2 separate regions of the Homo sapiens genome follow, and region 2 is linked to region 1. Evidence: fine-mapped expression QTL. A gene starts in region 1. The other region holds a variant in brackets. All regions are shown on one strand. Distances are between the middles of the regions. Region 1 holds the start of SGK3 (serum/glucocorticoid regulated kinase family member 3). Region 2 overlaps CSPP1 (centrosome and spindle pole associated protein 1).

The links.
Region 2: its variant is fine-mapped to the expression of SGK3 in whole blood (INTERVAL, PIP 0.93).

The regions. Positions count from the first base shown.
Region 1 is chr8:66,699,646-66,716,263 of GRCh38, reverse strand. SGK3 (serum/glucocorticoid regulated kinase family member 3) reads right to left here and starts at 3,483. Exons shown (of 17, transcript NM_001033578.3): 1 at 3,431-3,483. The region is part of intron 3 of C8orf44-SGK3 (C8orf44-SGK3 readthrough); the gene reads right to left. RefSeq lists a silencer at 3,305-3,774.
Region 2 is chr8:67,154,791-67,164,575 of GRCh38, reverse strand. It overlaps CSPP1 (centrosome and spindle pole associated protein 1), which reads right to left. Exons shown (of 31, transcript NM_001382391.1): 20 at 5,980-6,129; 21 at 5,439-5,585; 22 at 2,661-2,765; 23 at 778-844; 24 at 68-185. Among named protein-coding and RNA genes, the nearest start is that of CSPP1, 95 kb to the right of the region's middle. The variant TC/C (reference allele first, on the strand shown) is at 4,200.

The sequences.
Region 1 (16,618 bases):
ACTACAAGATGCGGAAGTAGCACCTCTTAGATTTACCACTTTTCTCCATGATACTGGGCAGGGGAGAGTGAAATGAGAGCAAAGTCTCCACCATGAGAAATGGAAAAGGTAAAGGAAAACAGAGACACTGAGTCGCTTAAAATAATATGGGAGCTGTTACATCTGTCAGGAATAACATGTTACATAAGTTGAGTTTCATGAATCAGCAGTTTAGTCAGTAATTTACATTAATTTTTTTCAAAAAGAGAAAACATGAGAACTGGAAAAGGTAAAGTGGTTTCTGAAACAAGACAGGTTTCAAAGGTATTTTATTCCACTCCCACACAGAAGAACGTTGACAGGCAGATGACTCAGTCTGGCTTCATTAAGGGTTTCTTACTGCCTAATACACCTCATGGGAAAGGCCATCCCATCTCTCATATCTCCCTGATAACTCTTCTCAATTCCTCCTGCCAGGTAATGGCCATATTATCCCCTCTAATTGAAGGTTATCCACCTGGAAATCACATACTTTAGGTACCAAGGGCTATACTTAAAGCATATAAATAGTTGAGGAATTTTGTGTGTGTTTTTAAAGACCCTTTATGCTAAATTCATTGCAACATTTCAATAAAACACATAGTTTTATTTCAAAAATATTTACAATACCTATGATCATTGAGTTTGAACTTGATCATAAATCTAAGTAGTTTAGAAAGATAAGAAAGCTGTGGCCAGGCACGGTGGCTCACGCCTGTAATCCCAACACTTTGGGAGGCCAAGGCAGGCTGATCATGTCAGGGGTTTGATAATAGCCTGGCCAACATGGTGAAACCCTGTCTCTACTAAAAACACAAAAATTAGCCAGGTATGGGGGCATGCACCTGTAGCCCCAGCTACTCGGGAGGCTGAGGCAGGAGAATCGCTTGAACCCGGGAGGCGGAGGTTGCAGTGAGCCTAGGCTGCGCCATTGCACTCCAGCCTGGGCAACAGAGCAAGACTCTGTCTCAAAAAAAAAACAAAGAAAGAAAGAAAGAAAGCAAGCTGTCAACATAAACATAAATACCATGTGTCCGTTCTAAACTCTCAAAACTAGAGAAAAAAGGTAGGATGAAAAAAATACCCAACCTATTTTCTTTTTCAAAAACCAGAGGTGGCAAATCTTAAGAAATAAGTCCAAAGGGATTCCCATCCTTTTTGTAGAAAATGTGCTGTATTAGATACTGTCTGAAATGAGAGAGGCATTGGATTAGGCCTGGAAATCTCTCAGGCATAAATCAATTACTACGGTATTTTGAGAGACATGTTTTGAAAGAGCAAGATATCTGAAGCCATTTGGAGTCATTCATTCCACAGATGTTTATTACAGGCCTGCACGTGCCAGGCACTGTCCACACACCTGCCCTCCATTCAAGCTCTGCCTCTCACCTGCTGTGCAATCCAGGCTAAAGCACTTTAACATTTCCATGCCTCAGTTTCTTCATCTGTAAAAACAGGTAATAAAAAGTAATTAAGAGATCAACCATACAAGATCTCTCTGAAAGGTAAAGGAGTATGTCTGGAAGCACTTTGTAAGCCATGAAAATGCTAGGGGTCATCCGACTAAACTGAATTCACAAATGACACTAATGCCTGTTGTGTCATAAATTATTAATATATCAGAGGAACATGAGCCTTCTTGCTTCAAGAGACACTTCATAATCCTATTAAATAAGGCTTATCGGCTCACTTAATCATCTCTCTGAAAAGTTAAATATATGAGAGAGAGATAAGGGAGGGGGGCACAGAAAGGGAGTGAGGGAGTCAGAAAGCTAGTCTGATGTGCAGATTTTGACATTACATTCATAGTCACAATAACAAGAATCATGTCTATCTTAGTCACCACATTGGGTCTCTAATGGTGCACATTTGAAGAGGGCATGTTATTCTGAAAAAATATTCTCTGCATATCTGCAAATCACAAAAGGTACACCTATGAGGCTGACCTACCAATTCAATGTTTCCAAGAGCAAATAGCAGTAAAATTACAAAACGTTATTTGTTATGTTGATGTGTGCAAACAAAAATGTTCTATTTTATAGTACATTTCAAGTTCAATCTGACCCTCATATCTAAACTATGTCATATAAATAATGTCATATAAACAGTGTCGAACAGATCAGGAACAAAGCTCTTTTCAAAAACAAAAGTAGGCTCCATGCAGTGGCAGTTAAAGAAGGGGAAGTTCTGGTGTCTCCAGAGTTAGCCGATGGGCACAACGGCAGTTGAAAGAGACCATGTTACACAAGTCATTCAGGTTCTGGCCAACATCTGCTTTGAACAGGTCGCATTCCCAGGAGCTCCAGGCTCCCTTACCCCAGGGAAATGCTGGGGTGGTGGCTTGTCTTACAGAAGTGGTAGCCAAGGGGACCAGAAGGCACACCCGGTGCTAAAACATGCCTAAAACTTCCTCTAATGTTTACAGCTCTTCCAATGACATTTGGGGAACTAAAGTATGGATAGCCTCTTCATTGCTAGAACCGCTATAATATGATAAGTTAAGAATTTGATTTAATATTTATAAAGAACTTAGAAAGAGCCCAGCGCATAGTAAGGGCTATGTAAGTGTTTGGTAAATAAAAAAAGGCACCTCCCAGATTGGCTGGGTGAAGTCTCAATCTGGTGAGAAGGGAGAGAATCAAAATACACAACAGTCTATTTTTCACTTTGACAAAAGATTTAGAAATTACAGTGCTCTGTATTTATTTTGCACCCAAGTGCACACTAAGTAGTCTCTGGTGCAGGACTGAAATTCTACTCATGGTTCAGAAGTCACTGTGCACAACTCAATGAAAGCGTTTTAAGTTTCAAGAGATGATTCCTTTCTCTTTTCTCTTTCCAAGTAACGATGACTAAAAATGACAGAATCTAAAAATCTCAAAGCACTTCTTGTGGGTACATTCCAAAGCTAAAACTGTGAGAATTAATAGGGCCAGATTCACTTGAAGAGACGTAAGGGTTCAAATTACAGAGAACTTAAAAGACGCAACGTATTAAGGTCTTTTACTACAGATCCGCTGACAACAGGTTAAACGATTCCATCCACCCCACTCTGGCGGCTGCCCCCTCCCCGACCCTCGCAGGTGACCTGCACCCACTTTCGACCTCAGATAGGGTCTCCCTGCTCGGCGTTCCCAGTTCCTCCAGGCTCGGCGGCTGCGTGGGGGTTAACAAGGTCCAGCCACCGACGCCCCTTGGGCGTTTAGGAATCTCGAGGCAGGATCTGAATTCACCTCGTGGAAACAAAGACCACAAACTCTCCGGGAGCCGGGGGCTGGGCGGAGGTACGGCTTTTTCCGAGGACAGGCAGCGGCCGAGGCCCGGGCAGCCCTCGCCCCGCCCCGTCTCCTCCCGCCCCGGGCCGCCGTCGGAGTCCCGGGCGCGCGGACCCTCCCGCCGGCCCCGCACCTACCTGGCCCCGCGGTGCTGCTCCCGGCGCGGCGGGCGCGGAGCCGAACGCACTGCGCTTCCTCCTTCCCGGCAGGGCCGCCGGGCGCCGGCGTTTCCTCCTTGACGCGTCACGGCCGCTGGCGGCTCCTCCCGCGGAGCGCGCGGGAGGCCGAGGACAGCCGGGGAAGGCGCCGGATCCCAGCAGAGCGGCGCGAGCGGCGGGCCGGGGGCAGCCCGTGCGGGGAGGGGCTGCAGGCTGCGTCCCGCTCAGGCCTCCGAGGAAACCCGCGCTCCTCTCTCTTCCCCGAGGACCCCCGCGAAAGGCCGGGCCACGGTGCACCGTCTGCCCCCGTCACGCGCTGTGCAAAGTTCAAGAGGACACAGTGGGTCCTGTCTGGAGTCACAGACTCTGGTGTTTCCCTCTGCTCCGCCCGCAGTGGCCGCTACCCTGGGGCCCAAGACCGGCGCGGGCCAGAGCGCCGGGGCCCAACAGAGATGACCTGGTGTGTGCAGGGATCAGGACCCCCCGGGTGGGCCCGTGGTGTTGGGGGGGTTGGCTTGGTGTAAACTGGAAACTCAGAGGAGTGAATTAAATATCCAAATAATTGAGAACAACTGTGATTCATTTAGCATTATTTGGACAGTTTTCCACTTTTGTCATTAGCAGAGTTACGGCCCTTGTGTTTATAAACAGTCGAGAACTTTCACAAATTGGCAGATCCTGTGTGCAGAGAAATTTCCTTTCCACACATCTTTTTAGATCTACTGACTCTTTTTTTTATTCCCATTAATCTCCAAGTCAGCTGAGTGCACACTTTACAGCTCCTTATTACTCATTCTTGAATTACAGAAGCTGCGTTTTAGATCTGTTTATCTCTTTTAACAGATAGAGAAGCTGAGTGGAGAACTAAGAATTACATGGTTCAATGGATGTGGAGTCAAGTGGTTAAGATTTTGAAGTAGAGTGGGTTGTTTTCTTCGTCCCACAACACTACTGTAATTTAGGTCTTATCAGATATCACTTGAAGATAGACTCAGACAAGTACTTAAAGATTCCCATGTGCATATCATGCCTTAGATTTTGAGACAATGATTTGTACTTTAGATCATATGATTCCAGAGAATTTGCCACAAATCTATGAACAAATAAACTGCCAAAGGTTATTAGAGGAACTGGGATCTATGTGTGACTTCCCTAAATTCAGAAGACATTTCCTCATGTTTTAAAATGATATTCAAAGATTTAGCCCCACAAGTATGGGTTAGGACATTCATTTTTAATGTCAATAACCACAATGTGGCCTCTCTTTAAAAAGTGGATTGTGAATCCAAATACTTTTTGTACTTCAGTAATCCTACAGAACTTTCTAAACAGTAGTTTTCAGAAATGAATATAAGAATGCAGTAGATACAAAACAATACATTGCCGGTGGTCCTTTATATGTTTTACTGTGGTCCACAAAGCAATCCACATACATTAGAGGAGTTCTTCCCTTGTAACAAAATCAACAAGTGATGAGTGTATCTCTTAATTAAAGCCATATTCACAGTGCTGAAGATTTCTCAGACAAAAGGAAGTTCTGTGTCAATAAACTCCAAGTGGAATAACATCATTCTCACTTTAGAGACAAATACCTGGCTATCACCACATCTTGACTTTTTAAAAAAATAAACATCTGGGAACCATTACATTTCTAGATAAATTTGTCCTATTGTGAAGAACACACACACACACACACACACACACACACACACACACACACACAGAGATCACCTCCCACAAACATTTTATGTATTTTCTTTTTTTTTTTGAGACGAGACGGTCTCACTGTGTTGCCCAGGCTGGGTTCATTTGATCAACAGACAACATGTTAGGCATTTTGCCTTTACAATCTGAGAGCTGCAATTTAATAGCTAGATTTTGCAAAAAGCTAGAGGAGGTAAATATATTCACAAACTACTAAGGACTTTTTCACTGTAATTAAATTAGTTTTTTTTTTTTTTTTTTTTTTTGAGATGGAGTCTCACTTTTGTTGCCCAGGCTGGAGTGCAATGGCACAATCTCAGGTCATTCCAACCTCCTCCAACTTCCGGTTTCAAGCGATTCTCCTGCGTCAGCCTCCCGAGTAGCTGTGATTACAGGTGCCTGCCACCACGCCCAGCTAATGTTTTGTATCTTTAGTAGAGACAGATTTTCGCCATGTTGGCCAGGATGGTCTTGAACGCCTGACCTCAGGTGAGCCACCCGCCTTGGCCTCCCAAAGTGCTGGGATTACAGGCGTGAGCCACCATGCCCAGTCTAAAATTGGTTTTAAGGGCAAATTTTAAGGCTGATCACTTTGTTGTTGTTGTTGTTGTTGTTTTGGTTTTTTTTTTTTTTTTTGAGACAGGGTCTCACTCTGTCACCCAGACTGGAGTGCAGTGGCGTGATCTCGGCTGACCGCAACCTCTGCCTCCCAGGCTCAAGCAATTCTCCTGCCTCAGCCTCCCCAGTAGCTGGGATTACAAGTGTGCGCCACCACGCCCGGCTAATTTTTGTATTTTTAGTAGAGACAGGGTTTCACCATGTTGGCCAGGCTGGTCTTGAACTCCTGACCTCAAATGATCCACCTGCTTCAGCCTCCCAAAGTGCTGGGATTACAGGCTTCAGCCACCGCACCTGGCTAAGGCTGATCACTTTGATTAATTGTGTTCACCTATTGATAGAGATATAGGTTATATCCCCATTTTCTGTTATGTTTCCAAGTTTAGACTGTAAAAAAAAAAGTTGTTGAATGTTCAGCTAAATGTCTAGCTGATGTTTATACCTTTATGAAATATTTCATGTAAATAAATTTTAAAAATAGAGCTTTTTATCAGACTATGGGTCCCAATACTTTCTTTGAAAATATGATTCTGTTCATTCAGATAGAGCAAATATTTTGTTCATCTGTTTTATCTATAGTGTAGAGATTTTGAACACAAGCTTTGGAATTGGACAGACCCAGGTTTAACTCCTGGTTTGCCACTTCCTACTTTGGGCAAATTGTTTCACTTCTCTGAGCACCGGTTTCATCAGTAACCTGGGGATAATAGTGCTTTTTCCTCTTCAGTAAAACGGAGATAATAGTGCTAATCTCATGAAATTGCTATGAGGATCAAATGAATTTAGTAGAATGCCTGGAACATAATACCAAGTGACTGCTATCTTCATCATTATTAGCTCTAAAACATATATTAAAATGCCAATATTATATATGTTTTATTTGTAATAGTATTAAAATGGCCAGATTTTAGAAATTTTGGCGGTGGCTCACGCCTGTAATCCCAGCACTTTGGGAGGTCAAGCCGGATGGATCACGAGGTCAGGAGTTTGAGATCAGCCTGGCCAACATAATGAAACCCCGTGTCTACTAAAAATACAAAAAATTAGCCAGGTGTGGTGGTGGGCACCTGTAATCCCAGCTACTTGGGAGGCTGAGGCAGGAGAATCACTTGAACCTGGGAGGTGGAGGTAGCAGTGAGCTGAGATCACGCCATTGCACTCCAGCCCCGGGCGACAGTGTGAGATTCCGTCTCAAAAAACAAACAAAAAAACCCCAACTACCCAGCCACATAATGTGGTTATTACGATTATTTTAGATCATATATTCCAATGAAATGAATGCTTGGTTTTCATCCTCCACTATTCAAAATGGGAAACCTTTTCTCTAAAATGGTGCCTTATGTGGAAGCATTATTACTTTTTTATATCATAATAAAGCCCTCTATTATTTGTAGTTCTTTTATCAGAACCTTGGAAGAAGTGAGGGGCATAAAAATACAAGAAATACCACTTCCATTAGTGAGGGCTGGTATTCATTAGAATGCTTGTTTTTTGCCAGGCACCGTGGCTCATGCCTGTAATCCCAGCACTTTGGGAGGCTGAGGCAGGCAGATCACCTGAGGTCAGGAGTTCAAGACCAGCCCTGCCAACATGGTGAAATCTTGTAGCTACTAAAATACAAAATTAGCCAGATGTGGTGGTGGGTGCCTGTAACCCCAGCTACTCAGGAGGCTGAGGCAGGAGAATCGCTTGAACCCGGGAGGCGGAGGTTGCAGTGAGCCGAGATCTCACCACTGCACTCCAGCCTGGGCAACAAAGCGAAACTCCAGCAAAAAAAAAAAAAAAAAAAAGGAATACTTGTTTTATAGCAGATAAAATATTAAGTCTAGAGAGGTAAGAATAATCCTACCAACTATATGCTTACAAAAGCAAAATACTTTTTTTGGTTTGTTTTGTTTTTTGAGACAGGATTTCATTCTGTCACCCACCAGGCTGGAGTGCAGTGGCGTGAGCTCGGCTCACTGCAGCCTCGACTCCCTGCTTTCAAGCCATCCTCCCACCTCCTGAGTTGTTGGAACTACAGGCTTGCGCCACCACCTCAACAAATTTTTAAAATTTTTTGGAGTCAGGGTCCCACTATATTGCCCAGGCTGGTCTTGAACTCCTGGCATCAAGTGATCTTCCTATCTCGGCCTTGAAAAATGCTAGGATTACAGGTGTGAGCCACCTCGCCCAGCCTCGCAAAGGATGGTTTTGATTCATATTATTTGCATTGCTTTTAGGGTATCTTTTCCCTCATTCTGCTGAAGACTCACATGCTTAAGTGGGTCAGACACCATAAGTTGTTGCTATAGTTTCTAGCTATGTTTATCAGCTGACATTCTAATCACAACATCCCACAGTATCAAATAAAAGAAAACCATTTTTGTGGAGAAGATAGTTAAAAACATAATCCTAACTATGAATTGGCTCAGATTGTAATAATTAAAAGGAAAACCTTGCTGTAAAAATGGGTAAAAATATGGGGAAACAAAAGTGACTAATTTATTAAATTTTCTTTTTTTTTTTTTTTTGAGATGGAATTTTGCTGTGTCACCCAGGCTGGAGTGCAGTGGTGTGATCTCGGCTCACTGCAGCCTCCATCTCCTGGATTCAAGCAATTCTCCTGCCTCAGCCTCCCAGGTAGCTGGGACTACAAGCACACACCACCACACCTGGCTAATTTTTGTATTTTTAGTGGAGACAGGATTTCACCATATTGGCCAGGCTGATCTTGAACTCCTGACCTCAACTCATCCGCCCACCTCAGCTTCCTGAAGTGTTGAGATTACAGGTGTGAGCCACCGAGCCTGGCCTAAATTTTCTTTTTTTTTTTTTTAAATTTCTCTCTCTCTCTCTCTTTTTTTTTTTTTTTTTTGACTGGGTCTCACTTTTTTTTTTAGAGACAGGGTCTCACTCTGTTGCGCAGGTTGGAGTGCAGTGACACAACCATGGCTCACTGCAGCCTCAACCTCCAAGGCTCAAGCACTCCTCCCACCTCAGCCTCCCAAGTAGCACCACAGGTGCACACCAACACGCCTGGCTAATTTTTTATTTTTGTAGAGACAGGGTCTCCCTATGTTGCCCAGGCTGGTCTCAAACCGCTGGCCTCAAGTCATCCTCCTACCTTTGCCTCCCAAAGTGCTGGGATTACTGGTGTGTGCCACCATGCCCAGCTGACTAATTTATTAAATTTTCTGAGCAAAACAATTTAATAAAACATAAAGCAACCCAAGATACAGTTAGAAAAACTCAGGCCAGTAGTGGTGGCTTACGCCTATAATCCCAGCAGTTTGGGAGGCCGACATGGGAGGATCCATTAATCCTAGGAGTTTGAGACCATCCTGGGTACCAAAGTGAGACCCCTCCCCTTGTCTCTATAAAAAAAAATTAGCTGAGTATGGTGGTGCACACCTGTAGTCCCAACTACTTGGGAGGCTGAGGTGGGAGGATCACTTAAGCTTAGGAGGTCAAGCCTGTAGTGAGCTATGATTGCCCCACTGCAGTCCAGCATGGGCAACAGAGGGAGACCCTCTGTTTAAAAACAACTGGCCGGGCACGGTGGCTCACGCCTTAATCCCAGCACTGTGGGAGGCCTAGGTGGGCGGATCACGAGGTCAGGAGATTGAGACCATCCTGGCTAACATGGTGAAACCCCGTCTCTACTAAAAATACAAAAAAATTAGCCGGGTGTGGTGGCGGGCACCTGTAGTTCCAGCTACTCTTGAGGCTGAGGCAGGAGAATGGCGTGAACCTGGGAGGTGGAGCTTGCAGTAAGCCAAGATCGTGCCACTGCACTCCAGCCTGGGCAACAGAGCGAGACTCCATCTCAAAACAAAAAACAAAACAAAAAAAAACAACCAAAAAAACCCTCAGTGGCCGAGCACGCTGGCTTACACCTGTAATCCCAGCACTTTGGGAGGTCATGGCAGGCGGATCACCTGAGGTCAGGAGTTTGAGACCAGCCTGACCAATATGATGAAACCCCGTCTCTACTAAAAATACAAAAATTAGGCTGGGCGTGGTGGCTCACGCCTCTAATCCCAGCACTTTGGGAGGCCAAGGCAGGTGGATCACAAGGTCAGGAGATCGAGACCACGGTGAAACCCCGTCTCTACTAAAAAATACAAAAAAATTAGTCGGGCGCCGTGGCAGGCGCCTGTAGTCCCAGCTACTCGGGAGGCTGAGGCAGGAGAATGGCGTGAACCCGGGAGGTGGAGCTTGCAGTGAGCCGAGATTGCGCCACTGCACCCCAGCCTGGGAGACAAAGCAAGACTCCGTCTCAAAAAAAAAAAAAAAAAGTACAAAAATTAGTCGGCATGGTGGCATGTGCCTGTAATCCCAGCTACTTGGGAGGCTGAGACAGGAAAATCGCTTGAACCCGGGAGGCGGAGGTTGCAGTGAGCTGAGATTGAGCCATTGCACTCCAGCCTGGGCAACAAGAGCAAAACTCCGTCTGAAAAACAAAAACAAAAAAACCCCTCAGTTGGCCAGGTGCAGTGGCTCATACCTGTAATCCCAGCACTTTGGGAGGCCAAGGCGAGAGGATCACTTGAGGTCAGGAGTTCGAGACCAGCCTGGCCAACATAGTGAAACCCTGTCTCTACTAAAAATACAAAAATTAGCTGAGCGTGATGGTGCACCTGTAATCCCAGCTACTTGGGAGGCTAAGGCAAGAGAATCACTTGAACCCGGGAGGGGGCGGTTGCAGTGAGTCAAGATTGCGCCACTGCACTCCAACTTGGGGGACAGAGCAAGCCTCTGTCTCAAAAAAAAAAAAAAAAAAAAAAAAAAAAGGGCCGGGCGCGGTGGCTCACGCCTGTAATCCCAGCACTTTGGGAGGCTGAGGCGGGCAGATCACGAGGTCAGGAGATCAAGACCATCCTGGCCAACACAGTGAAACCCCGTCTCTACTAAAAATACAAAAATTAGCCAGGCACGGTGGCTCATGCCTGTAATCCCAGCACTTTGGGAGGCCGAGGCGGGCGGATCACGAGGTCAGGAGATCAAGACCATCCTGGCTAACACAGTGAAACCCCGTCTTTACTAAAAATACAAAAATTAGCCGGGCGTGGTGGCAGGCGCCTGTAGTCCCAGGTACTTGGGAGGCTGAGCCAGGAGAATGGTGTGAACTCGGGAGGTGGAGCTTGCAGTGAGCTGAGATCGCGCCACTGCACTCCAGCCTGGGTGACAGAGTGAGACTCCTTCTCAAAAAAAAAAAAAAAAACCCTCAGATACACATGGGAACTGAAATTGAGAGCAATTAACGCCTCTTTAGCACAGAGCAGAATTAACTTGTTTCTATGATTTGAAAAGGGTTCAGCATGTGTTCATTTTGTGGGGTAGGGTATAGGTGGGAGGCCCAAAGCTGAACGTCATTTCTTGGGCCAAATTAGCCAATTCAAACTCAAAACTGAAATGCTTGAAGTTCAAGTATGTTTCATAACAGGTAGGAAACTCTATTTTAAAACAAGACTACATTAGGATCAAATATAAGGCTTTTCAGATCACAGGACTTTCTCATTTTCTGTATTAGACTCATGAGAAAAATCAAGGGGAAGTGTTAGGAGATCAGAACACTTAAACTGCTAGCATCAGCTTTTTGATAAAAAGTAGCTAGAAATTATTTTAAATTTCCCTAAGACCATTAATTATCTAAAATAATATTATTATACTTTCCTATTAGGGAAATCTCATTGTCTTCCAATCTTGTTTTTATGAATGTCAAGAATAAAATATAAATCATTCATTTTTCTCTTTTTTTCTGTATCTCATTTAGTCTATTATGTACATAAAATAAAAGTCTGTTAATAGTTGACAATAATTTATTTACATAAGTCGTGTCAGCAGTTTCTACGTCCAGGGGATCATATTAGGGTAGGTGGACTAAACCTGCTAGGTGGACTTTGAAGATAACTATTATTTTAGTTGCTTATCAGTGGGGAATAATAGCTTTTCTTAAACACTGTTCATTTGGTGACTCAGTTATTTACTTCTATTATGTGCAATTAATGATTGAACCTATTTCAAATGCAAGGGCTTAATAGCTTCTGGCATAAAGAGGTGCATTGCTGTTATTTCCTTAACAAATTCTCTAAGGAATCTGTGTCTGGCCCAGCCAGATGTGTCAAAGACTTAAGTAGACCTTAAGGAATTATAACTCTTCATACGCAAGAAGACTCTTAAATTCCCCTGAGTTTTCTAAGATAAACAACCCCAGCTCTTTTAACTTTTTCTGTCATTTTAAAAAATATTTTATGACTCTCATAGGAGTTTTTCCCAAATTCTCCATGTTTTCTTTAGATTTTAGAGGAGATGCCCAGTATGAGACATGGAACTCTATAAAGGATCAAGTGAGTCCTTAGTATCATGGAGTGCAGTGGTGCGATCTCAGCTCACTTCAACCTCCACCTCCTGGGTTCAAGCAATTCTCCTGCCTCAGCCTCGCAAGTAGCTGGGAATACAGGCACCTGCCACCATATCCAGCTAATTTTTGTATTTTTAATAGACGCAGGGTTTCACTATGGTGGCCAGGCTGGCCTCAAACTCCTGACCTCAGGTGATCCGCCTACCTTGGCCTCCCAAAATGCTGGGGGTACAGACGTGAGCCACCGCACCTGGCCAGTTGACACTCTTTTTTTTTTTTTTTTTTTTTTGAGACGGAGTCTCGCTCTGTCGCCCAGGCCGGACTGCGGACTGCAGTGGCGCAATCTCGGCTCACTGCAAGCTCCGCTTCCCGGATTCACGCCATTCTCCTGCCTCAGCCTCCCGAGTAGCTGGGACTACAGGCGCCCGCCACCGCGCCCGGCTAATTTTTTGTATTTTTAGTAGAGACGGGGTTTCACCTTGTTAGCCAGGATGGTCTCGATCTCCTGACCTCATGATCCACCCGCCTCGGCCTCCCAAAGTGCTGGGATTACAGGCGTGAGCCACCGCGCCCGGCCGACACTCTTATAATGCAGCCTTGTATTAATCTTACGTTTAAAATTACACTTCAAAAAAATCACATTTCATTATTATCAGATTTTAAAATCTAAACTCAGCCTCCTTTTATTTCTCAAATTATATTTAAGAAGTTGTTTTGATTATCCTATGTAATTCCTCTGCATTTGTTTTACTGAAACTGTATTTCTCCTGGATAATTTTAAATTTCTTCATATTTGCTAAGGCGAATGGTATTGAAAGTGGAGACTGGACATCCAAAGGGTCCTCAAGGCAATCTACTACAAGTTCAGAAAGAACAGAAAGAAAATATTACAACATCCATTTGTTTTCTCTAAAAAGTAAGAAACAGACCAGGTTGGCTCATGCCTGAAATCCCAGCACTTTGGGAGGCTAAGGCGGGTGGATCACTTGAGCTCAGGAGTTCAAGACCAACTTGGGCAACATGATGATACACCGTCTCTACAAAAATATAAAACTTAGCTGGGCATGGTGGTGTGCATCTGTAATCCCAGCTACTCGGAATGCTGAGGTGGGAAGATAGCTTGAGTCTGGGAAACGGAGGTTGCAGTGGGCCAAGATCGCACCATTGCACTCCAGCCTGGGTGACAGAGTGAAACCCTGTCTAAAAAGAAAGAAAGAAAGAAATTAAGCTTTATTATTTAACATAAATGTGACACTGGCATGCTCATACAGTCCTTTGTCAGTCATGTCAGAGGTGTGCTGTGTGAGGTAACCTGAGAAGGACAGACTTTTCACAATTAAAAGGGTTGACTGGGTGCCCTAGTTCATCCACAATCAGTCTATTGAAGTTGTATGTAGTATAGGACATCATTGATGTGGTCGATTTTGTAAAACTAAATCCCTTCAATAGAATCTACATAATACCTTATACTGAGATGGGGAGTGATTGTGAAAACTTTTTATTTTCTAGCAAAGTATTCAACATACTCGAGGTCAAAAGCACAGATCCTGGACACACACTGCCTAGGTTCTGACCACAGTTCTCCCATCACCAGCCATGTAATCCCAGGAAGATCATTTAACTCTCTGAGGTTCAGTTTCTTCATCTGTGAAATGGAGATAATAGTATCTACTGCATTGAGTTGTTCTGGGGATGAAGTGAGTTGATACATATGTATATAAAAATCTCTTAGTATAATATCTACTACCAAAATCAGCTTTACACAAGCTCTGGTTGTTATTACTTAAAAGAGTATTTGACTATGAAGAAGAATTATGCATTTTCGCTGACAAAAAATACAAGTGATTCAGATTTCTTTACCTTTTCTGTGATAATCCCTGTGGGTTGTATTCTATGTAGAGGATATTAAACATACATATTTTCTTTTTCTTTTTCTTTTTTGAGACAGAGTTTTGCTCCTGTTGCCCAGGCTGGAGTGCAATGGCGTGATCTTGGCTCACTGCAACCTCTGCCTCCTGGGTTCAAGTGATTCTCCTGCCCTCAGCCTCCCAAGTAGCTAAGATTACAGGCATGCGCTACCCTGCCTGGCTTATTTAGTGTTTTTAATAGAGATAGTGTTTCCCCATGTTGGCCAGGCTGGTCTCGAACTCCTGACCTCAGGTGATCTGCCCGCCTCAGCCTCCCAAAGTGCTGGGATTACAGATGTGAGCCACCGTGCTCGGCTGCACATTTTCTTTTAAGGTAAAGTTTTAGCAATGAGTGAGAGATTAACTTCCTTCCTTCCCACTCCCTTTAGTGTAGATGGGTTTTGAAATAAACAGTTTGGAGAGAGTGTCTTGGAAATATTTCCATCAGTATGTGACTTTGTTGCATGGGAAACTGTGTGTGTGTGTGTGTTCGTGTCCTATTAAAACTCTATCTAATATATATATTGCACTGGAATTTTTGAAACACAATTTTCTACTTGTTTAAACATTTTCCAGTTAATGCATTTCAGTGGGTCTTAAAATTTATTTGATGAAAAAATAAAAGGCAGTGTCTTTAAATTCGTTTGCAAGAATTACTGACTGAGGCTGGGCACAGTGGCTCATGCCTGTAATCCCAGCACTTTGGGAGGCTGAGTAGTGGGGGATCACTTGAGCGCAGGAGTTTGAGACCAGCCTGGGCAACACAGCGAGACCCCGTCTCTATTAAAGAGAAAGAAAGAGACAGATTGAGAGAGGAAGGAGGGAGGGAAGGAGGGAGGGAGGGAGGGAAGGAGGGAAGGAAGGAAGGAGGGAAGGAAGGAAGGAAAGAAGGAAGGAAGGAAGGAATTACTGACTGACAGCAGAGAGAATGGAAATTTACTAGTCAAACTTCGACAAAAACCTTTACAGAACTGGATGATGGGACTGAAAAAGAAAATGAGTACTTTAATAGATATAGCCAATAACAATGCATCTCTTCCATTTAAATCTAAATATCTTTATGAAATATCTCTTCAAAATATCTTCTCACCTGTGACAGCCATTAAAGTGAAGTATTAGAATAACTAAACTTAAAATTAGACTTTCTAATGACTGCATCACAAAGTGTTAAATCAAGATTTTTTTTTTTTTTGAGATGGAGTCTTGCTCTGTCATCCAGGCTGGAGTGCAGTGGCGCGATCTCGGCTCACTGCAAGCTCCGCCTTCCGGGTTCACGCCATTCTCCTGCCTCAGCCTCCTGAGTAGCTGGGACTACAGGCGCCCACCACCAGGCCCAGCTAATTTTTTGTATTTTTAGTAGAGACGGGGTTTCACCGTGTTAGCCAGGATGGTCTCGATCTCTTGACCTCGTGATCCACTGCCTCGGCCTCCCAAAGTGCTGGGATATACAGGCCTGAGCCACGGTGCCTGGCCAAAAAGTCTTTTCTACTATTAATAAAATACTATTGGGCTGGGCGCAGTGACTCATGCCTGTAATCCCAGCACTTTAGGAGGCCAAGGTGGGCGGATCACGAGGTCAGGAGTTCAAGACCAGCCTGGTCAGCATGGTGAAACCCCGTCTCTACTAAAAATACAAAAATTAGCCGGGCGTGGTGACAGGTGCCTGTAATCCCAGCTACTTGGGAGGCTGAGGCAGGAGAATCGCTTGAACCCAGGAGGCAGAGGTTACATTGAGGTGTGATCACACCATTGCACTTCAGCCTGGGTGACAGAGCGAGACTGCATCTCAAAAAAAAAAAAAATACTATTAAGGCCAGGTGCAGCGACGCACACCTGTAATCCCAGCACTTTGGGAGGCTGTGGTGGGCAGATTGCTTGAGACCAGGAGTTCAAGACCAGCCTGGGCAACACATCAAAACTCCATTTCTACCAAAAAAAAAAAAAAAAAAAATGGCTGGAGCTGGGTGTGGTGGCTCACACCTATAATCCCAGCCCTTTGGGAGGCCAAGGCAGGTGGATCACTTGAGCTTAGGAGTTCGAGACCAGCCTAGGCAACATGGTGAAATTCTGTCTTGACCAAAAATAGAAAACATTAGCCAGGTGTGGTGACACATGCCTGTAGTCCCAGGTACTTGGGAGTCTGAGGCGGGAGGATCACTTGAACCCGGAGGCAGAGGTTGCAGTGAGCTGAGATCACACTGCACTCCACCCTGAGTGACAGAGTGAGACCCTGTCTCAATAAAGAAAAAAAAGAATTGGCCAGCTGTGGTGGTGCAGGCCTGTAGTCCTAGCTACCCAGGAGGCTAAGGCAGGAGGATCATTTGAGCCCAGGAGTTTAAGGCTGGAGTGAAGTGAGCTATGATGGCACGACGGCACTCCAGCCTGTGTGACAGAGTAAGACCTCATCTCTAAAATTAAAAATTAAGGTGGAAGAAGGAGGTGATAGAATAGAGTCAGGGAAAGAGATGTAACTATGGAAGAATGGTCAGAGAGATGCAACACTGCAGGCTTTGAAGGTGGAGAGCACATCAACAGAATGAGATCCTGTCTCTACAAAAAATTTTTTAAGCCGGGCGCAGTGGCTCACGCCTG
Region 2 (9,785 bases), 450 kb before region 1:
ATTACTGGATAGGTGAAGTAAGATAAAAGAACTCAAGCGAACACAAAAACTGCAATTCTAAACTTGCCTGATAGGAATTTCATCATCACTGTCCATGTGTAGCAATCGCTCTTGTAGACGCCTCTCTTCACTACGAAGCTGTTTTCTCATTTCTGATAATTCCATAATTACATTTTTTTTCTCCTCTGCAAATTCCCATTGATAAGTAAAACACAAGACAGGAATAAGAACAAAAGACTAAACATTAAAACACAACCTGACTAATAATAAAGTGAAACTGCTCAGAGAGACAATTTTATGAAAGATATTTTAACATTTTATATATACACACATACATGGATCATAATTGTGAACGTCATTAGGACCCACAAGTACATTTTTTATAATATAGGAATTTCAGAAGCGATATTCTTGGGGGAGTGCAACTATAAAGGAGAGGCCCAAGGAAGTTCCTTTACGGTGATGGAACAGTTCTGTATCTTGATTGCAGTGGTAGTCGCACAAACTGTGCATGATAAAAATGCACAGAAATACACATACATAAATGCATGTAAAAACTGGTAAAATCTGATGGTCTGTGGACCACATCAATGTCCACTTCCTGGCTATGAGACTATACTATCTAAGATGTTACCCCAGGGGAAAGTTGGAGAATGGGTACACAGCACCTAACCGCTCTATACTGTTTCTGCAATTTTCTATGAGTTTATAATTATTTCAAAATGAAAAGTTAAAAAGAGAAATACTCTAGGTAACAGGTTTAGTAGTTAACTCTACCTTCTGCACGGAGCTGATTTTTCCTGGCAGGTACCGGGGGTGACTGTGCCCTGGACATGGAACTTTCCTGTTCAACAATAATGACAAAGACATGTTCAGTATGTCTTCCCTACACAGAAGCTTGAAGGGAGTAATTTTTTGAAGTATTTATATGTAAAGGAAACCAAACTCCACACTATCCTACCTCCAAAACTTACCCAGCTATACTCTACCCAAGGTAGAGTATATCCACCTTTTATATCTATTCTAGAGTGTATCTACCATGTAAATCTATTCTTCCTTCTCATCACGATGGAAGTGTCCTTGCCTCTACCCAAACAGAATCCCTTCACCTGTACTCTGTATCTGATAATTGACTCCCATTCTCCTCCGATTATTCTTTTTTCCAACTTCCTCTCTCCAAGCACCTTCCTCTCAGCCTATGTGTAAAAACCTCTCCCTTTCTTAAAAAAAAATTTTACCTCATCCTTCATTGCTCACTGTCTCCTGTCCATTCTGTCCTTCCCTTCACAGCTGAGCTTCCTTAAAGAACAGTAAATGCAGTACTTTTGGGTCTACTGCCTACTCTCATTCACTTCTCAACACACAGCTATGGCCTTTGCTTTCACACCCATCACTCCAACAATACTGCCTTCACCAAAGTCATCAAGTGACCCCCAAGTGACACATTCAGTGGGCATTTTACTTGGCCAGTCGCAACTGCCGTCACTGCCATCCTCTCTCACCCTCTGTCCATTCCTTTCACTGCTTCTCAAATGTTGGTAATTTCCCAGTATTCTATTCTCAGCCTCCTTTACTTCTCTTGTAGACACTCATCGTAGACAATGGCACTAATTTAACAAGCACCAATATGTTGATGGCGTCCAGAACTACAAATCGAGTCCAGAACTCATTCTGCTGCCACAATTCATATTTTCAACTGCCTACTCTATGTAACCCTCACCAAAAACTTGAAAGTTATCATAGACTCCTACCCACCACACACTCAACAAATAGTACTACTATGTCTCTTAAATGTATCATAAAGCTGTCACACCTTCACAGTTCTTGGTGTCACTGCCTTTGTTTGGGTCCTCAGTCTCACATCTGGACTTGTGCAAAAGCATCTTATCTCCATGTTTAGTCTTGCCCCACCTCCAAAACTTATCTCCACACCATTGCCTAAAAAAACATTATACAAAAGTGGCCATGTCATTCCCCTACTTAAATATTACAATGAATTCCTATGCATTATCTACCACAGACCTACTAAATCAGAATCTCAAAGGGTGGAATTCAGAAACATGTTCTTCTGACACATTTCTTTACCTTCTGCTAATTAGCCTGTCTGGAATCTACCAGCCTATGGAACAAAATCAAAGCTCTTAGCACTCCGTACAGCATGCCACACATGTTCTGACCTCCACCTCCTCTGCTGCCTTAATGCACAAGCATCATCAGGCCAGACCACACCATGGAAGATTCTCCACATGTGCCATGAGCTTACATTGCTCTCCACGACTTTCCACAAGCTGATAATCCCTCACCCTCCTCTTCAAGGCAAATTCCTGCATATTCTTCAAGCATCACCTTGAGGATCAATCTTAGAACATTTTCCATGTTCTCTTTTCCTTGTAGTTCAATCTAAAGTATAACAGACTCAATGAGCATATCTACAGCTACCTAGCTTGAGGGGCTAAATTATGGTTTGTCAAAAGAAACTTTAGGGCACCAAGCACTATCAGTTACAATCGAAGCAGCAGGCAAATTACTGTAGATATCACCTATATTTCAGATCTGAAAAAATTTAACCTATCCAAATATAATGAAAAAGAAAATTTCATTCGATCCCCCAATCCAAAATAACTGAGCTAGGATGAACAAATAAAAACAAAAGTACATACATGAATAAAGGAACGTATGATGCTGTCAACTGAAGGAGGTCTTTGGAGTTTGCTTGCAATTTTGTTCTGAAGAGCAGGAACTATAGGAGAAGGCTGTCTCATGTGCTGAAAAATTTAAAAAATTTAAGAGCATATTTGCTTCATCACACTCACACACATATATACACACACACACACCCCTTATAGTTAAGAAAGTCATCTAAGAAGTTTAGATTGTTATTGCTTTTATTTAATAAAATGCTTTCTACAAAAGTCAGAAATTCAATTACATAAGATCAAACATGTTGGTTATGATAAACATAAATGGATTTAGACATCTTTATTAAAACAGTATGACTGTCAGATTAGGATTTAAAAAATCAACAAACACAAGTAAAGCAACAAAAAAGAAAAAATATAACAAAACTAAAGAATCATCTTTAATAATAAAAAGGTACCATGACAATACAAAAAAATTAAATAACAAAATCCTTCTGGAAAGCAATACAAATCAACCTCGAAAATCTAGATCTAATCACTAACAGCATCATGGATGAGGGACTTTTCAAGATCACGATGGGGTTCTATATTTCAGTTTATAGTGTATTAAACCTTATAGTCCAAAAACTTCATTGTAAATACAACATAGACATTCTAAATCCCTGTAGAGGATGGAGCAAACAAGCCATAGTACACATAACAAAAGACCAAAAAGCTATCAAGGAAGAAAAACACAAAAAAGTCAGAAATGCAATTAATGCAAAGACATTAGTTTTGATAAACATAAATGGATTTAGATATCCCTATTTTAAAAGATTAGGCCAGGTGCAGTGGCTCATGTCTATAATCCCAGCACTTTGGGAGGCCAAGCAGGCAGGTCACCTGAGGACAGGAGTTCAAGACCAGCCTGGCCAACATGGTGAAACCCCGTCTCTAATAAAAATTAGCCAGGTGTGGTAGTTTGCACCTGTAATTCCAGCTACTGGGGAGGCTAGGGCAGGAGAATCACTTGAACCTGGGAGGCGGAAGTTGCAGTGAGCCGAGATTGCACCACTGCACTCCAGCCTGGGCAACAAAGCGAGTCTCTATTTCTAAATAAATAAATAAATAAATAAAAATAAAAAGATTATAACTCAGATTAGGATTTTAAAAATTCAACAAACTAAAGATAGAAGCTAACTAAATAAAAAATATGGTGACACAAAGGTAAAACTGAAGGAATAGACAAAAATATATATATATATCAGACATACATAAATGAAAGAAAATGATAGCAATGTTAATTTCAGAAAGGCAAATGCATTAAATGGGATAAAGCTGATTTAAAACTTTATGGTACTTTACAATTAAATTATAATATCATAAAAGTATATATTCCTTAAAAAATAGCATTTTTAAAAAACATAAGAAATTACAAGAAATATAATTATGGGAAACTAACAATTCTGTTTAATTCTTTTTTTTTTTTTTTTGAGATGGAGTCTCGCTCTGTCACCCAGGCTGGAGTGCCACAGTGCAGTCACGGCTCACTGCAACCTCCGCCTCCCAAGTTCAGGCGAT[TC/C]TCTTGCCTCAGCCTCCTGAGTAGCTGGGACTACAGGTGCCTGCCACCACGCCCAGCTAATTTTTGTATTTGTTATAGAGACGGGGTTTCACCATGTTGCCCAGGCTGGTCTCGATCTCCTGGCCTCAAGTGATCCGCCTGCCTCGACCTTAAATTCTTAAATGATGAATTTTACAATAAAAAATTATCTGTGAGGCAGGGTGTGGTGGCTCACACCTGCAATCCCACCACTTTGGGAGGCTGAGGCAGGAGGATAACTTGAGCCCAAAAATTTGAGATCAGCCTGGGCAACATAGCAAGACCTGGTCTCTTAAAACAAAAAGAAAGAAAAAGAAAAAGAAAAAGAAAAGAAAAGAAAAGAAAAGAAAAGAAAAGAAAAGAAAAGAAAAGAAAAGAAAAGAAAAGAAAAGAAAAGAAAGAAGGAAGGAAGGAAGGAAGGAAGGAAGGAAAGGAAAGAAAGAAAGAAAGAAAGAAAGAAAGAAAGAAAGAAAGAAAGAAAGAAAGAAAGAAAGAAAGAAAGAAAAAGAAAGAAAGAAAGAAAGAAAGAGAGAGAAGGCCGGGCGTGGTGGCTCACTCCTGTAATCTCAGCACTCTGGGAGGCAGAGGTGGGTGGATCATCTGAGGTCAGGAGTTTGAGACCAGTCTGGCCAACATGGTGAAACCCCGTCTCTGCTAAAAATACAAAAATTAGCTGGGCATGATGGCGTGTGCCTGTAGTCCCAGCTACTTGAGAGGCTGAGGCAGGAGAACTGCTTGAACCCAGGAAGTGGAGGTGCAGTGAGCCAAAATTGTGCCACTGCACTCCAGAGCCTGGGCAACAGAGCGAGATTATGTCTCAAAAAAAAAAAAAAAAAAAAAAAAAAAAAGAATACATATATATATATATATAAACCACTCTCACTTTCTGTATTAGTCTTGTCATGAACCATAACAAACAGTTCATGTTGTACTGTCTGCAGACCATATTCTTGGGTGGCACCGCATACACCATGGGAATGAGACTAAGAATGGCTCAAGTAAGTAAATCCATTACCTTCAATGGACAGAAAATACCAACAAAGCACAGTGACAGTACCTCCTACAGAAAGTTCAGTACATTGTGCCCAGACTAAACAGTAAGACAGAACAGGAACAAAAGCACCTCCTCCTCTTTCTCCCCTTTTCTAACAACTGTACAACTCTCACAGTGAAAGTGAGTTAAACTATGGGTTTGATTGACATTTTTGTCTGAAACTTACCTTTGTTTCTTCCCCAATCAAATTGTCTCTTTCACAGTAGTGCTGAAGTTGCAGGTTATATTTTTCTTCTTCTTCTTTCTTCTTTCTTTCTGCTTCTTTTTGTCTTTCTTCAGCTAACCGAATATGCTCTTCATTTTTTAGCCTTTGCTTTAAAATAAAAAGAGAAATATGCATTCCATATATTCCTTCTATAGTACATTCAAAAATGTGCTGCCTTATTTATCTGATAAAATGAGATAAAGATATAGATGACATGATATGGTGTTCTTTAACATAAGTTGTCTGCTTAAAAATAAAATATTAGGCATCTTTTATAAAGTCTTCAGTCAGCCTACATCTATATTTTTAAAGTCATCACTTATCTCCTTTCTTAAATTACCCTTTCACCTTAATAAAATAATATCCAAAGAATGTATATTGATCTGATATTTTCTAAATGTACTCCAACACTGTTCTCCTTTATAAGTAAGAAATACCTTTTCAAGTCAAAGATTTCACCTTCAGACTAAGTAGTAAAATACAATAGGGAAAAAAGATGTACCTCCTCCTCTTTCTCTCTTTTCTTTTCCTGTTCCTCTTCATACTCCTGCTGAATTCGTGCCCTCTGTTCTGCAAGCCGTCTTTCTTCTTTTTCTTCTGCAATTCTCAGTCTCTCTCGCTCTGCTTCCTCTCTTTGTTTCTTTTCCTCAATCTAAAGAATTAAACTTAGTTATTTATCTTGTAAAACTATTGAAAAGTTAGAATATCACTTATTTTTTTCCTGATAGTATATAAACTCAACACTTGTACCCTCTTTTTGCATGTTCCTAAATTTTTCAGTCTCCTGTATTTTCAGGGAGGCTACATGATTTACTGTACTGTTAAAAGCTTTGAGTTAAATTCCAGTTCCACCAAACAGACCGTGTGACCTTAAGAAACTTGCTTGTCCTCAGTTTTCTCTTTTTTCTGGTAAACACAGTTATTAACGCCTACATCTCAAAGGAGTGCTTAAAGAATTAAAGTGAAACAATGTAAGGAACATAAAAGTCCTCCTATATAGAAGGTTCTAAGCAACTAATTCATGATTATATTATTCTATAGTGATTGCTGCTATTATGTGTCAAAATTCTTGGAATTGATTATTCTAAAATAACAGTGAAATTAGTATTTTAGTATTCAATCATTTTTTAATGCAAGAGCCATTTCTCCCAAATGCCCTTTGTTATTTCCTAACTATAGAGGTTAATGGAGAAAGAACTAAAACTATTAGGTGGAGGAGGATTTAGGTCACAAGGACTCACAATTAAGTTTCATCTTGAATGCTACCTGGAGTCTGCAGCGTTGAGTACTCTAGAGCCTAAGATTTGAAGGAAAGAAGGCCCTAAGAGATAGATAGTCCACACGCCCGATGAATGAGGCAGGGAAGAACAGCAGCATGGGAACCAGGTATTCATGTCTCTGGTTTAAAGTTATCAACAGATTTTAGTTATCCTTAGGTATGGATCATACTACTCAGCATATTTTTGTTTTTCTTGTCTGTACTTCCTCTAGCTTCAAGGTTGCTCTATCTAGTGCTATTAATTTTTGAGCTACAAGAACTTTAATCTGGCCAGGCGCGGTGGCTCACCTGAGGTCAGGAGTTCGAAACCAGCCTGGCCAACATGGTGTAACCCCGTCTCTACTAAAAATACAAAAATTAGCCAGGCGTGGTGGTGTGTGCCTGTAATCCCAGCTACTCAGGAGGCTGAGACAGGAGAATCACTTGAACCCAGGAGGCAGAGGTTGCAGTGAGCCGAGATTGCACCACTGCACTCCAGCCTGGGCGACAGAATGAGACTCTGTCTTTAAAAAAAAAAAAGAACTTTAATCTTCTAACACATCCTATGATTTTATATACTAGGGCTTTTTCCAACACTTCTTTCTCACAACATTATTAAATATGCATAAGCCTAATATTTAGTACTTTTAGTTAGCAATTTGCATGCAATCACTTCTTCAAGTCCAATATGCCTAAAGAAAACATCATTTATAATTCATCAAAATTTCATATTCAATACTCAATTCCCCCTTCTTCCTACTCCATGGAAAAAAAAATCACATTCACAGGGGTCACTTTTCCATCAAAATCAAAGAATACCAATTTTTAAGCTATTAATGGATCATACACCTAATGGATCCAAAGCTCAGTGCCAACAGGAATGCTAGACAGTTGTTCAACAGGTTTCTGGTCTGGAAAGCAGGGAAAGCTATCTTCCTGTCATGGTTTTCCAATTACATAACACAAAAATGCTTCAGAGTTCTTAAAAATATTTTATTTGTTAACTATTTTTAAAGCTGTGGTTAAAAATGTCAAACATTCACAAGTGTTATTAATATTCACCAAATTTTAACAGCATGAAGACTTCTGATGCATTAACTTGAGCTAACTGTGGAACTTACTTGTACAGACCTCAGGCTAATTTCTTACCATCTTTGTGCACAGATTTGAACATTTCATAATATTTTTTTTAACAAAAGTTTTGGATACTTTTTATCTGACATTATATTGTTGACAGTAATAATAAATACCATTGATCTATTTTACATTTTCTTAGAATTACATATTAGGTTTTGTTTGAGGTGGGAGAAGAGATTTTGAAGAGGCTGCTGAAAGAAAAATTAAAAAATCATCATCTGAAAGCAATCCATTCACAGATAAATTGAGGGTTGACAGGGTGGAAGAACTGAAGGTTGAAACTAAAATAGTTAAAGCTTCCCCCATTACCATACTTTTTCTAGAGGTAAAGACTTCCTAGTGAATCCTATAAATAGAAGTCTGATATCCATAGATATTACACTTGAAGTCTGGAGACTTGGGTTCAAGCAATGGCCTCACAATTTGCTAGCTGTGACACCCTGGGCAAGCCTGTTAGTCTGTGTATTAGTTGTATGTTATTAAACAGAGATAATAAAACCTCTCTCAGAGAAATCTGAGGTTTGATGAGACACTATATGTAAAAGTATCTCAAAAACAATAAAAGTCTATACAATTGTAAGATTGTTTTTTGGCTGAATTCTACCTTAGACCATGATAAGAACTGCTAAGCATTAGAGGAGGTACTTAAATTATGACCTGCTGTCATGGTCAATATACCACACGGTCCTTTACGTTCAACAGGGACTCTGAACCCTCAACTTGCTGCTACCTGACTTGAGTGCACAATATTGGGACCTCTGATACCAGTTTCTCACATTTAATATCTATATTGTTTCTGCTGAACCTTAAAAAGCACTTTCCACCCATTTCCACTGTCACCCACACTAGTAAAATATCCCTGCTTCCACTCTTTTTAATCCTCTATTATTGTATCTTAAACAGTGATGTCACATCAATCATCCTTTTTTCACTCTGTCACCCAGGCAAGAATAAAGTGGCATATCTTGGCTCACTGCAACCTTTGCCTCCTGGGCTCAAGCAATCCTCCCACCTCAGCCTCCCGAGTAGCTGGGGTGACAGGCACACACTACAATGCCTGGCTAATTTTTTGTAGAAATGGGGTTTCATCATGTTGCCCAGGCTAGTCTCAAACTCCTGTGCTCAAGAGATCTGCCCACCTTGGCCTCCCAAAGTGCTGGCATTAGAGGTGTGAGCCACCACACCCAGCCTAATATCAATCATCCTTAAAGGCTATATCCATTACGTCACTGCCTTATTTAAGAGTCAAGAATAATTAGGATTAAAAAGAAGATATGTTTGAGGGCATCTATTTAAGAGTTTGGAATTAGATTATAAAACCTTAAATGTTAGGTTCAAGAGTTGAGATAATTTCTGTAGGCAAAGAAAAGCTACCACCAGATTTTGAGTAAAGAAGAATAGCAGGTGAAAAGTCATATCAAAGGAGGATTAACCAGGCCATAAGATTAATCTGACACTGGTATCTAAGTGTGAGTGTGAAGGGGAGGGAGGTAGGGAAAGAAGAAACTGTGAGTCCCTCATGAGCAAGTATCTCACATTCATCTCAGGCTCCATCCCTAGGACTCAGCCCAGGGTACCCCCAGTATGGGAGTAAGTCTGTTTGCTTCATAAACACTGGATGTTCAAGTGTCTTCCTTTGCGAATAGTCTGGGCAGTTCTACTATGTTAAATGCCATTTACTTATGTACATAAATGGGGCAAATAATTGTAAACTGTGATTATCTTAAATCTAATTTTTATTTATTTACAATCTGTAATAATATCAAATCATTTGGAAAAAATCTATTGATTTTCTAATAACTTACAAATATCTAGAAAGATGCATTCTCTGCCTAATAGATGAATATATTAGTAAATCAGTTTTTAAAATCTCAGCATTCTTTGATTTAAAATTAATGACTTAGGCTGGGCGT